Linked DNA regions of Homo sapiens: region 1 is linked to region 2. Evidence: fine-mapped expression QTL. A gene starts in region 2. The other region holds a variant in brackets. All regions are shown on one strand. Distances are from middle to middle.

Region 1 (5,364 bases), 28 kb before region 2:
TTCCTTCTTATCATCTGCACAGCCCTCCAGAGCTGCTCTCTCCATACGGCCTCAGTGCCCATCCGGACTGCTCTCCTTGCAGGGTACCTGCCTGGCCCCTGTAGCTCCTGATGTAATAATCTCTGCAAAATTTGACCTGGAAAAAATGAAACTGACCAAAAGGATGGCCCTACACATACCAATGAAATTGTACAACAGAAGAAGATATGATTAGCAAAATTGGACATGGAGCCAGAACCTAATCCACAAGTCAAATATTTTCAAAATACAGACAGATGCCTTTAAAGTCCAACACAAAACAAAAATGCTCAAAATACGTTGATTATATGAGAGTTCCTGACTAGTGCAGTAAGACAAGAAAAAGTATAAGATTTGAAAAAAGAGACAAAACCTTCATTATTCACAGACGATATGATTGGCAATACAGAAAAGTAAAGAGATTCCAAAAACCACTGGAAATTTTTTAAGGTTTCAACTTTGTTGCCAGATATGGGGTCAGTACACAAAATTCAATCGTGTTTCCTCTAACGGACACCAACAAACCATATGTAACTTCTGATTTACAATAATTTCACTTACAATAGCAGTCAAACCACGTGGTACTTTGGAATAAATCCCCAAAAGTATGTAAGACCTTTATGAAGAAAACTATAATATTTTATTGAAATTCATAAAATAAGGCCTAAATAAGTGAGAAATCAAGTGGGGTCATTGATGGAAAGACTCCGTGTTATAAAGTGGTAATTCTGTACAAATGCAGTGCAACGCCAATTAAGATCTCATAGTTTCCTGGAACTTAGTAGGCAGGTTGTGAAATTTATATGGAGGTTCCAAATATAGCTGAGACCATCTTAAAGAAGACGAAAGAGAGAGAAGAATGTTTCCCATAAAAGAAGAAACTGGAGTTCAGATTTCTCTTTGGAAACTGAAAGATCCCCCCACAGTGGACCCTCACTTCTGGAGAGGAATATTCAGCTACAGTTGACTAGCAGTTGCCCCTTCAGATAGAATATTCGATCTCCAGTTCACCCAGTATATCTTCTACTTAAGGCACCTGCCTGACCCTTGCAGATATTTGATTATGTGATAGTTACCTGGAGTGAGGGCTTAAGATAAGAGGAATGGAAGAGATTGTTTAAAATACATCTATTGTTTGGTTGTGTAAGTATTCTCCTCATGGTGAAACTTGACCAGGCAAGTAGAAAGAATAACAGAGAAGTATGTGAATCTAAGACATTGATGTTTCTGGTAATGGTGAAGTTCCGAGTATGATCACGGGAATGCGTGGCTGAGAAGGGATAAAGGAAATGGTGCCTGAGGATATAAAGTGAGAGGACTGGAAAGTGCAAACGGCCCAAGTCAGTGGCTCCCCTGAGACCAATACCAGCAGTTGGGATGAAGGGAATCTGCCTGTTAACAAGGTTTCCTAGGATCTGATGCACAGTTCTTGATCCACGGCGTCAGAAATAAAGTGGTTAAATAAATATAAGCTACCGGCCGGGCGCGGTGGCTCACGCCTGTAACCCCAGCACTTTGGGAGGCCGAGGCGGGCGATCACGAGGTCAGGAGATCGAGACCATCCTGGCTAACACGGTGAAATCCCGTCTCTACTAAAAATACAAAAAATTAGCCAGGCGTGGTGGCGGGCGCCTGTAGTCCCAGCTACTCAGGAGGCCGAGGCAGGAGAATGGCGTGAACCCGGGAGGCGGAGCCTGCAGTGAGCCGAGATTGAGCCACTGCACTCCAGCCTGGGCGACAGACCAAGAGTCCGTCTCAAAAAAGAAAGAAAGAAAGAAATATAAGCTACCTATACGTGGGGCTGCCTATTAACTCCGCCAAGTGACTTAACTCCTGCCTCTTTATCTGTAAAATGGGCATAATTACAGCATTGTTTTTGGAAGATTCCATGTAATAAAGTCTGAAGTGTGCTTAACACAGTACTGGGAACTTAAGCAGCACTCACACTTCATCCTAAATACGACGAAAGTCTTTTCAAAAAAATAAAAATTAATGCAATATGACTTACTTGGAAATGTATCAAAAAATAAAGACCGATGAATGGATCGAGGCGTAGTGTGACAGAGTAAAATTTTAATGATAAAAAGTTAATGGTAAAATGTTCACTGTAAAACTTTCAACTTTTCTTCTTGAAAACGTGCATAATCCGACGTGGGAAAAAAAATAACGCATTGCAGTCAGTTCTGGGGAAACGGAAAGCTAAGTTTTAATTTTGCTATTGCTTTTGCTTTTTTAACAGAAAAGGTACAAAAAAGAAAAAATGGGAGAGATGTTGCCGAACTCCGTCCCGCCTGTGGGCTGTGGGCCGTTAGCAAAGCTGCTAGCATGAAATCGTCGAGCACCGCTTGCGAAACGCCAAATCCTCGA[G/A]AGCGAGGCCGGAGGCTGCCAAACCCGCGCTGGGGAAAGGGCCGCCTCCGGGCGCCCCATCCCGCTGCGGACGGAGGTGAGGTTGGAGCGAGCGCTGGCGGAAGAGAGGCTCAGCGCAGGGGGCGCAGAGCCGGCGCTGGCCAATATGCGCCGCATGTGATACCTTTGAGGGCGCGGCGGGGGAGGGTAGCGTCAAATTTCAAAAAAAAAAAAAAACCAAACCCACACAGCCCCGGCGGGCGGGCGCGCGCGATGGGCGCCCTTTGGCTGCGGGAGCGAGTGGAGGATGCTGGGAAGGAGGTAAAATGGCCACCGGCGGCGGCGCGGAGGAAGAGAGGAAACGGGGGCGGCCGCAGCTTCTGCCCCCCGCGCGGCCCGCGGCCCGGGGCGAGGAGGCCGACGGCGGCCGCGAGAAGATGGGCTGGGCCCAGGTGGTGAAGAATCTAGCCGAGAAGAAGGGCGAATTCCGCGAGCCGCGGCCGCCGCGGCGGGAGGAGGAAAGCGGCGGCGGTGGAGGGAGCGCCGGGCTCGGCGGCCCCGCGGGCCTGGCGGCGCCGGACCTCGGCGACTTCCCACCGGCTGGCCGCGGGGATCCGAAGGGCCGTCGGAGAGATCCGGCCGGCGAGGCGGTGGACCCCCGCAAAAAGAAGGGCGCTGCGGAGGCGGGCAGGAGGAAGAAGGCCGAGGCGGCGGCGGCCGCCATGGCGACCCCGGCCAGGCCCGGCGAGGCCGAGGACGCGGCCGAGCGGCCCCTCCAGGATGAGCCGGCGGCGGCGGCAGGCCCGGGCAAGGGTCGCTTCCTCGTCCGCATCTGTTTCCAGGGAGACGAGGGCGCCTGCCCGACCCGGGACTTCGTGGTAGGAGCGCTTATCCTGCGCTCCATCGGCATGGACCCGAGCGACATCTACGCGGTCATCCAGATCCCGGGCAGCCGCGAATTCGACGTGAGCTTCCGCTCAGCGGAGAAGCTGGCCCTGTTCCTACGCGTCTACGAGGAGAAGCGGGAGCAGGAGGACTGCTGGGAGAACTTTGTGGTGCTGGGGCGGAGCAAGTCCAGCTTGAAGACGCTCTTCATCCTCTTCCGGAACGAGACGGTGGACGTGGAGGACATTGTGACTTGGCTCAAGCGCCACTGCGACGTGCTGGCCGTGCCGGTGAAAGTGACCGACAGGTTTGGGATCTGGACCGGGGAGTACAAATGCGAGATCGAGCTGCGCCAGGGGGAGGGCGGGGTCAGGCACTTGCCAGGGGCCTTCTTCCTGGGGGCCGAGAGGGGCTACAGCTGGTACAAGGGGCAGCCCAAGACATGCTTTAAATGTGGTTCCCGGACCCACATGAGCGGCAGCTGCACGCAGGACAGGTGCTTCAGGTGCGGGGAGGAGGGGCACCTGAGCCCTTACTGCCGGAAGGGCATCGTGTGCAACCTCTGTGGCAAGCGAGGACACGCCTTTGCCCAGTGTCCCAAAGCAGTGCACAATTCCGTGGCAGCTCAGCTAACCGGCGTGGCCGGGCACTAAACACCCGCCTGCCTGCCAGGGTGAACACACAGCCAGCTTATCCCTCTTAAGTGCCAAAACTTTTTTTTAAACCATTTTTTATCGTTTTTGAAGGAGATCTTTTTAAAACCTACAAGAGACATCTCTCTATGCCTTCTTAAACCGAGTTTACTCCATTTCAGCCTGTTCTGAATTGGTGACTCTGTCACCAATAACGACTGCGGAGAACTGTAGCGTGCAGATGTGTTGCCCCTCCCTTTTAAAATTTTATTTTCGTTTTTCTATTGGGTATTTGTTTTGTTTCTTGTACTTTTTCTCTCTCTCCTTGCCCCCCTCCCGCCCTCCCCGCCCCATACCTTTTCTTCCCCTGGATTTTCACCCTTTGGGCTGCCTTGCTCATCTTTATGCCCCAGCACTAGGTACGGGGCCCAACACGTGGTAGGCACTCCATCAGTGTTTGCTGAATTGAAAACATTGTTGACTGTGGCTTCTATCAGAGTGTCTACCTTTTGCAGCTCTTCCCCTCCCTCATTTAATTTGCTGCTTTTAATCTACGTGGTCTGAGAATTTGTGAAACCAGTGTTGTTAGAAGTGTATATAATCTGAATCAATAAGCTCTGAATGGTGGCCAAGGGCCTCTCTTATGGCACAAAGATGCATGGACTTCATGACAGCTCTTTTGGTGGCTCAGAAGCCATTTTTTATAGAATCATGGAATCTAGAATATTCCTGCTGGAAAGAACCTGAGAGTTGGTTTGGACCAATTCCCTGGTTTTCCAGCAGATGAAACAGGCCCAAAGAGGTTAAATGACTGGGTGAAAATCACATAGCTGTCTGGTGCCAGAGCCAGCCTATAGTAGAGTCCCCTGACCCCAAGCCCGGTGCTCATTCCACTACCTCTCACACTTCACAACAATTTCCTCAACACTTGAGGGCCCAGAAAGTCTGATCTCTCCAGAATGATCAGCCCAGAGGAATGCTGAGAAATCACCTGGAGGAGGGAGCAGAAAGAGAAGGTTTTTAAGGAGGGGCTTCTGAATACTTGGGAGATACGGAACGGACCAAGGACCACACTCCAGGGTGCATTCGTTGCTCCCTGGGGCACCACTTCTGGATTACAGTGTGCCAGGTCCTTTGGAGGCCCTACCCCTTCCCCATTCATTGCCACCAGTGAGAAATGGGGGTGCCCCTGTGTAAAGAAACCTACCAAAGGTTTACATTTGCACCTTAGCCTCAATAGCTACGAACCCTAGAGAAGCAGCTAGCTGGAGCTCATGTGCAACTCCTGATTCTCAGGAGAAAGATGGATTTTAACCCAAAATTATGAGTGAGCTGTTAACTCTAAAATGTACTTGGGAGATAGGCCAAGCGAGAGGTCATGGGCCAACTAAGTGTTATCCAGTAGAAAAGACAGTACACTGCTTTTCTTTTAGTGTTTGCTTTTCCTTTGCTATATGTTTTGCTATTTCCTTGTGGCTTAGAA
Region 2 (5,364 bases):
TACAACTTCCACCTTTCCGGCTCAAGCAATCCTCCTGCCTCAGCCTGCCAAGTAGCTAGGACTACAGGCAGGCACCACCCTGCCCAGCTAATTTTTGTACTTTTTTTTGTAGAGTAAGGGTTTCACCATGTTGCCCAGGCTGGTCTTGAACTCCTGGCCTTAAGTGATCTGCCTGCCTCAGCCTCCCAAAGTGCTAAGACTACAGCTGTGAACCACTGTGCAGGGTCAAATGTTTATTAATGGATGCATGCATGGATGGAAGAAGGAAAGGAGGCAGGTGTGAATAATGAATGCAGCATTTTCACTGCTGAGAATAAAGAGTGAAATCCTGGTCCAAATCAGTTTGGCAGTGAGTAAGGTTAGGAACTATTCACATACATTGGAATAATAATAGCAGCAGCAGCTACAGGGTCAGAGACAGATCTTTGAGAGGCCATAAGCATTGAAAAGATTGTGGTACCTATCACACACCGTCTAAAATAAAACAAATATTTTATTTATGGGAAAAGTGTTAAGGTGTTGATAATTCCAAGAAAGCTTTTATTTGTCCTACAATCATTACTTTGATACCTTTTCTGAAATCCTAGAGCTGTCCCCACTCTGCCCATTTTTTTTTCTCATTATGGTGATGTCTCTGGGTTGCTGGTGACCTGCGTAACTATTGGGAAATCTAGTTTCTCAAAACTTTTAGTTTTTTTTTAGACAGGGTCTCACTCTGTCACTCAGGCTGGAGTGCAGCGGCTCACTGCAACATCCGCCTCCTAGGTTCAAGCGATTCTCATACCTCAGTCTCCTGAGTAGCTGGGATTACAGGTACGCGTCACCAAGCCTGACTCATTATTTTGTACTTTTAGTAGAGACAAGGTTTCACCATATCGGCCAGGCGGATCTCGAACTTCTGACCTCAAATGATCCGCCCGCCTTGGCTTCCCAAAGTGCTGGGATTACAGGTGTGAGCCACCGCGTCCCGTCTATCATAAGTTTTATTGAACATTGCCTAGGTATCAGGATGTGTTTACATGCATTATCTCATTTAATCTGTAAAACCACCATGTGAGGGAGAAACTGAATTATCCCCATTTTCAGGATAAGGAAAAGGAGGGACTGGGAATGTGAACTCAGGAAGTGTGACTCCATCGGGTAGACTGCTCAGGCTGCAGATGTAAAGGTTTTACACGTAGGCTTTTCCAGATCTCAGCTTCTGAAAGGCGGAGGGACCGTTTGGACGGGAGCAGGGCCTCCTCTTCCAAGCACCCTGTGCCTTTAAGAGTCGCCCCCTCCCTCCAGGGATGCTCCAATTTCTTTCTCCCCACCACCCCCACCCCGCCCCCCGCGCCGCGGAGCCGCACCTCGGTCCTTCCTCCCCGCCCCACACCCTCAAGCTCGGCTCTTGGCCTTCGCTCGTCCAGAAGTGGGTGAGCTGTACCGCCAGAGGCGCATTCTCCTAGCCCCAAACCATGCCCGCTACGCCCCAGCGGAATGCCACCTTAAAGACCCTAATCCGGGCACCTCCCAGCTCCTGCTTCCCAAGGGCGAGGCCTCAGCGCCCCCTCCCATCGCCCATGCTCACGACGCCGTGAAGGTGACCTCCCCCAGGGGCGGCACACGCCCAGTGGTGCCCGAACTGGCTCACACGTGGTGAGCCGGGAGCGCGCGGCCCCTCCCCGCCACGCGCCTCGTGCCGGCCACCCGGCCACGCCCCCAGGACTGGCTCCGCCCCGTGCCCCTGCACGCTTCTCCAGGCTTGGGTGGGGCGACGCGCCCAAGTCGGGCACCGGGCAGGCTACGGGGTGGGGTAGGACCTGGGAATGGCGCACCCACGCATCCTCGAATGTCGCCTGCGGTTTGTGAAAAGCGGGAAGTCCGCCCAGCTCAGGACCTTTGGCTGGCAGGCGAGGTGCCCCGCGGCCCTTGGTGCTGAGCAGGGGAGAGACAGCTGGGACCGCGAGCCTGGGAATCGAATCCTAGTCTGCGTGTCCTCGGTGCTTCCTATTTGGAAACTGGGCATCATATTATCATATTCCCTTCTCCCTCCGGATTCTTATGGAGCTTCGAACGAGATTAAATATACATATATATGAGAAAGGGATTTGTTCACTAGGTCCAAAAGCATTTGCTGGTCCCATATGTGGTCGGACCCTGTGTGTAGTAGGCGGGGGGCAACATCTACGACAACCTGAGTTCGTCCCCTTAAGAAGCTTTCCTGAGTCTTGGGCCCCCCAAATTCTCTTCTGGGATGGTCCGAAAAGACGTCCCTGAAAGAGGAAAGGGCGGAAATCCTACCTGACGGCAGGTGTCTCGGAATGAGCTAAAATTTAAAAGGCAACGCGGGGCAGGGACAAGCGTCCAGCGTCAGATGGAAGCAGGCTCGCGTCCCCTACCCTTCCTCCAACCCCTAACCTAAGAAAAGAAACCGATCTCGCCGGTCTCCCCCAATCCTAGCCGCGAGACCGCCCAGCCCCGCAGCCCGAGCCCCGCCCCGCTCCGGCGGCCAGCGATTGGGAGATGCAAATACCGGCTTCTCTGCCCAGCAACGGGTGACGCGGCGCCCGAGCGCGAGGCGGGGCCCGGCCGCAGCCCAAGCGGGCACCTCGGTGTTTACACGGGGCGGCCCCGCGCGCGCCGCAGCGGCCCGCAGACGGCGAGGGGGAGGGGTGGTGCGCGCGCCGGCGGGGCCGCGCGGGGAGAAAGACACTGAAAGGCGTCGGCGGCCGGGCGGGGAGCGGCGCGCGCGGGCCGCGGCGGAGCCAGAGGCTGCAGGAAGAGCCCGCGGGGGCCCGGAGGGTGCGATTCCTCGGCCCCCGCAAAACAATGTGTGTTGTGAGCCAGGACGCAACTTGCCGGAGGCGGCGGGGGCGCGCCGAGCCCGCCTGAGACCGCGCTGACCTTCTCCCCCCGCCGTCCGTTGGGCCCGAGCGCCCAGCTCCTCGCTCCCCAGTTCGCGGGGGCCGGGCCGAGCCGCGGGGCGGGGCCGCCCCTCCGTCGCCGCTGCCTCCTCCCCCACCCCCAGCCGCGGAGGATGCGGACGGCCCCCGGCGGCGTCTAGCGGCCCCGGGCCCAGGCGCGATGGTGCAGCAGCGGGGCGCGAGGGCCAAGCGGGACGGCGGGCCGCCGCCCCCGGGACCCGGGCCGGCCGAGGAGGGGGCGCGCGAGCCCGGCTGGTGCAAGACCCCGAGCGGCCACATCAAGAGGCCGATGAACGCATTCATGGTGTGGTCGCAGCACGAACGGCGGAAGATCATGGACCAGTGGCCCGACATGCACAACGCCGAGATCTCCAAGCGCCTGGGCCGCCGCTGGCAGCTGCTGCAGGACTCGGAGAAGATCCCGTTCGTGCGGGAGGCGGAGCGGCTGCGGCTCAAGCACATGGCGGATTACCCGGACTACAAGTACCGGCCGCGCAAAAAGAGCAAGGGGGCGCCCGCCAAGGCGCGGCCCCGCCCCCCCGGTGGTAGCGGTGGCGGCAGCCGGCTCAAGCCCGGGCCGCAGCTGCCTGGCCGCGGGGGCCGCCGAGCAGCGGGAGGGCCTTTGGGGGGCGGGGCGGCGGCGCCCGAGGACGACGATGAAGACGACGACGAGGAGCTGCTGGAAGTGCGCCTGGTCGAGACCCCGGGGCGGGAGCTGTGGAGGATGGTCCCGGCGGGACGGGCCGCTCGGGGACAAGCGGAGCGCGCCCAAGGGCCGTCGGGCGAGGGGGCGGCCGCCGCCGCCGCCGCCTCCCCGACACCGTCGGAGGACGAGGAGCCGGAGGAAGAGGAGGAGGAGGCGGCAGCGGCTGAGGAAGGTGAAGAGGAGACGGTGGCGTCGGGGGAGGAGTCGCTGGGCTTTCTGTCCAGGCTGCCCCCTGGCCCGGCCGGCCTGGACTGCAGCGCCCTGGATCGCGACCCGGACCTGCAGCCTCCCTCGGGCACGTCGCACTTCGAGTTCCCGGACTACTGCACCCCCGAGGTTACCGAGATGATCGCGGGGGACTGGCGCCCGTCTAGCATCGCAGACCTGGTTTTCACCTACTGAGCCCACCGTCAGCGGGGCGCGCACGCCCCCAAACCAGCTGTTTACATACAGGAATCAGGTATTGGGGCCCCTCGGAGGCCGAGGCTGGCACCCCATCTCCCGCGCAGCCTGCCCCCTCCTGGACGTGCCCATCCCCCCTCAGATCCAGACATGCCCCTCCCCCGCAGACACACCCCAAGGCAGCCCAACCCCCACCCCTTCCCCGACACCCAAGCCCCTCCCCACGTCGCCCCCTCCTGCACAGCCACCAGCAGCCAGCCCCCTCCGATACACCTCCCGTCCTCTCCTACAGACCTGCACCCCTCCCCCCTTTTGCACACGCCCCTCCTCGTGGCCGGAGGACCCGCCCCCTCCTTTGCTCCGGAATCTCTCCTCCCTCGCCCGGCCCGCCTTCTCTGGGTTAGGGGGGCGATGCGGCCGGGTGGCAACGCACGCGCCTCCTGCGCCCCTCCCTTCCCTGGGGGGAGGGGCGCACCCCTTTTATCCCCGGAGCGCTAGGGCCCGCCCCTCCGCTGGGGCCCACCCCCTTCGTGCGCATGCTTAATGCTTCTGGGGAGGAGGGGGCTGGTCCCAGCGGAGCCGCACTCTTCGCCCGCTCCGGGCAAAAGCGGGGGCGAGTGTAGAGCGATCCTGGGAAATCCTTTGATCCGGGAGCCCTAGGTTTCCTCTCCAGCCAACGGGGCGTCGCTGCCTTAATGGGAGGAGCACTCGGAAGGGTTGGTTTGGGCCTGAAACTCTCCCAAGTGGCATAGCCCCTTTTCCGGTATGGGGTCTCCTACACCCACGCGCACCACCTCTCCGGTCGCGTGGCTGCCTCTACAGCCTACCTATACGTCCCTTTTTCCCCCCAACTGGGAATTGAGAGGTAAGGTCTTTCTCTGGAAATCCAGCAGTAGAGGAAGGGACCACCCAAGAAAACTAAAAACCAAGGCACCTTACCAGTCTGTCTGGGGACAGGATCCCTGCTGCACCTTCCCCACCCCCTCCTGGGAAGTGCCCCCTCACCTCAGGGCACCCGCAACCTGGGCTCCTCCCTGAGCGCACCGGCCCTTCCTGTCACCCAGGTCCACCCTCAGTACTCAAGCTGCAGTATACAGCGGGAAAAACTGAGGCACTTTGGTGCTAGGGGTTTGGGACTGAGGCGTGGAGAGCAGATGTGATGGCAGGAAGACTCTCGCTTTTAAACATCTGGTTTGGGAGAGACCATCGACTTGGCCAGTGAGACTGAGAATGGATTCCGAGTAGTGATGGGCCGTTTGCACCTCGGTTTTTCCACGTGAGAAATGGGGAGAACGCTGCTGTTAGGAGGAAGTTGTGTCCAGTTCAGGGTGCCCTCGGGAGCCCTGTCCC

Evidence for each region. PIP is the estimated chance that this variant, and not a neighbour inherited with it, causes the effect. A credible set is the group of variants that fine-mapping cannot tell apart.
Region 1: its variant is the best candidate, but not a certain one, in a credible set for the expression of SOX12 in whole blood (TOPMed, PIP 0.71).

What each region holds. Positions count from the first base shown.
Region 1 is chr20:294,897-300,260 of GRCh38, forward strand. ZCCHC3 (zinc finger CCHC-type containing 3) reads left to right here and starts at 2,674. Exons shown (of 1, transcript NM_033089.7): 1 at 2,674-5,364. The coding sequence starts at 2,691. The coding sequence ends at 3,902. RefSeq lists silencers at 2,778-2,867, 3,048-3,117. The variant G/A (reference allele first, on the strand shown) is at 2,386.
Region 2 is chr20:322,859-328,222 of GRCh38, forward strand. It overlaps SOX12 (SRY-box transcription factor 12), which reads left to right and starts at 2,694. Exons shown (of 1, transcript NM_006943.4): 1 at 2,694-5,364. The coding sequence starts at 3,067. The coding sequence ends at 4,014. NRSN2-AS1 (NRSN2 antisense RNA 1) reads right to left here and starts at 2,394. Exons shown (of 3, transcript NR_109990.1): 1 at 2,284-2,394. RefSeq lists silencers at 1,564-1,823, 2,384-2,693, 2,804-3,183, 3,254-3,313, 3,334-3,823 and 2 more.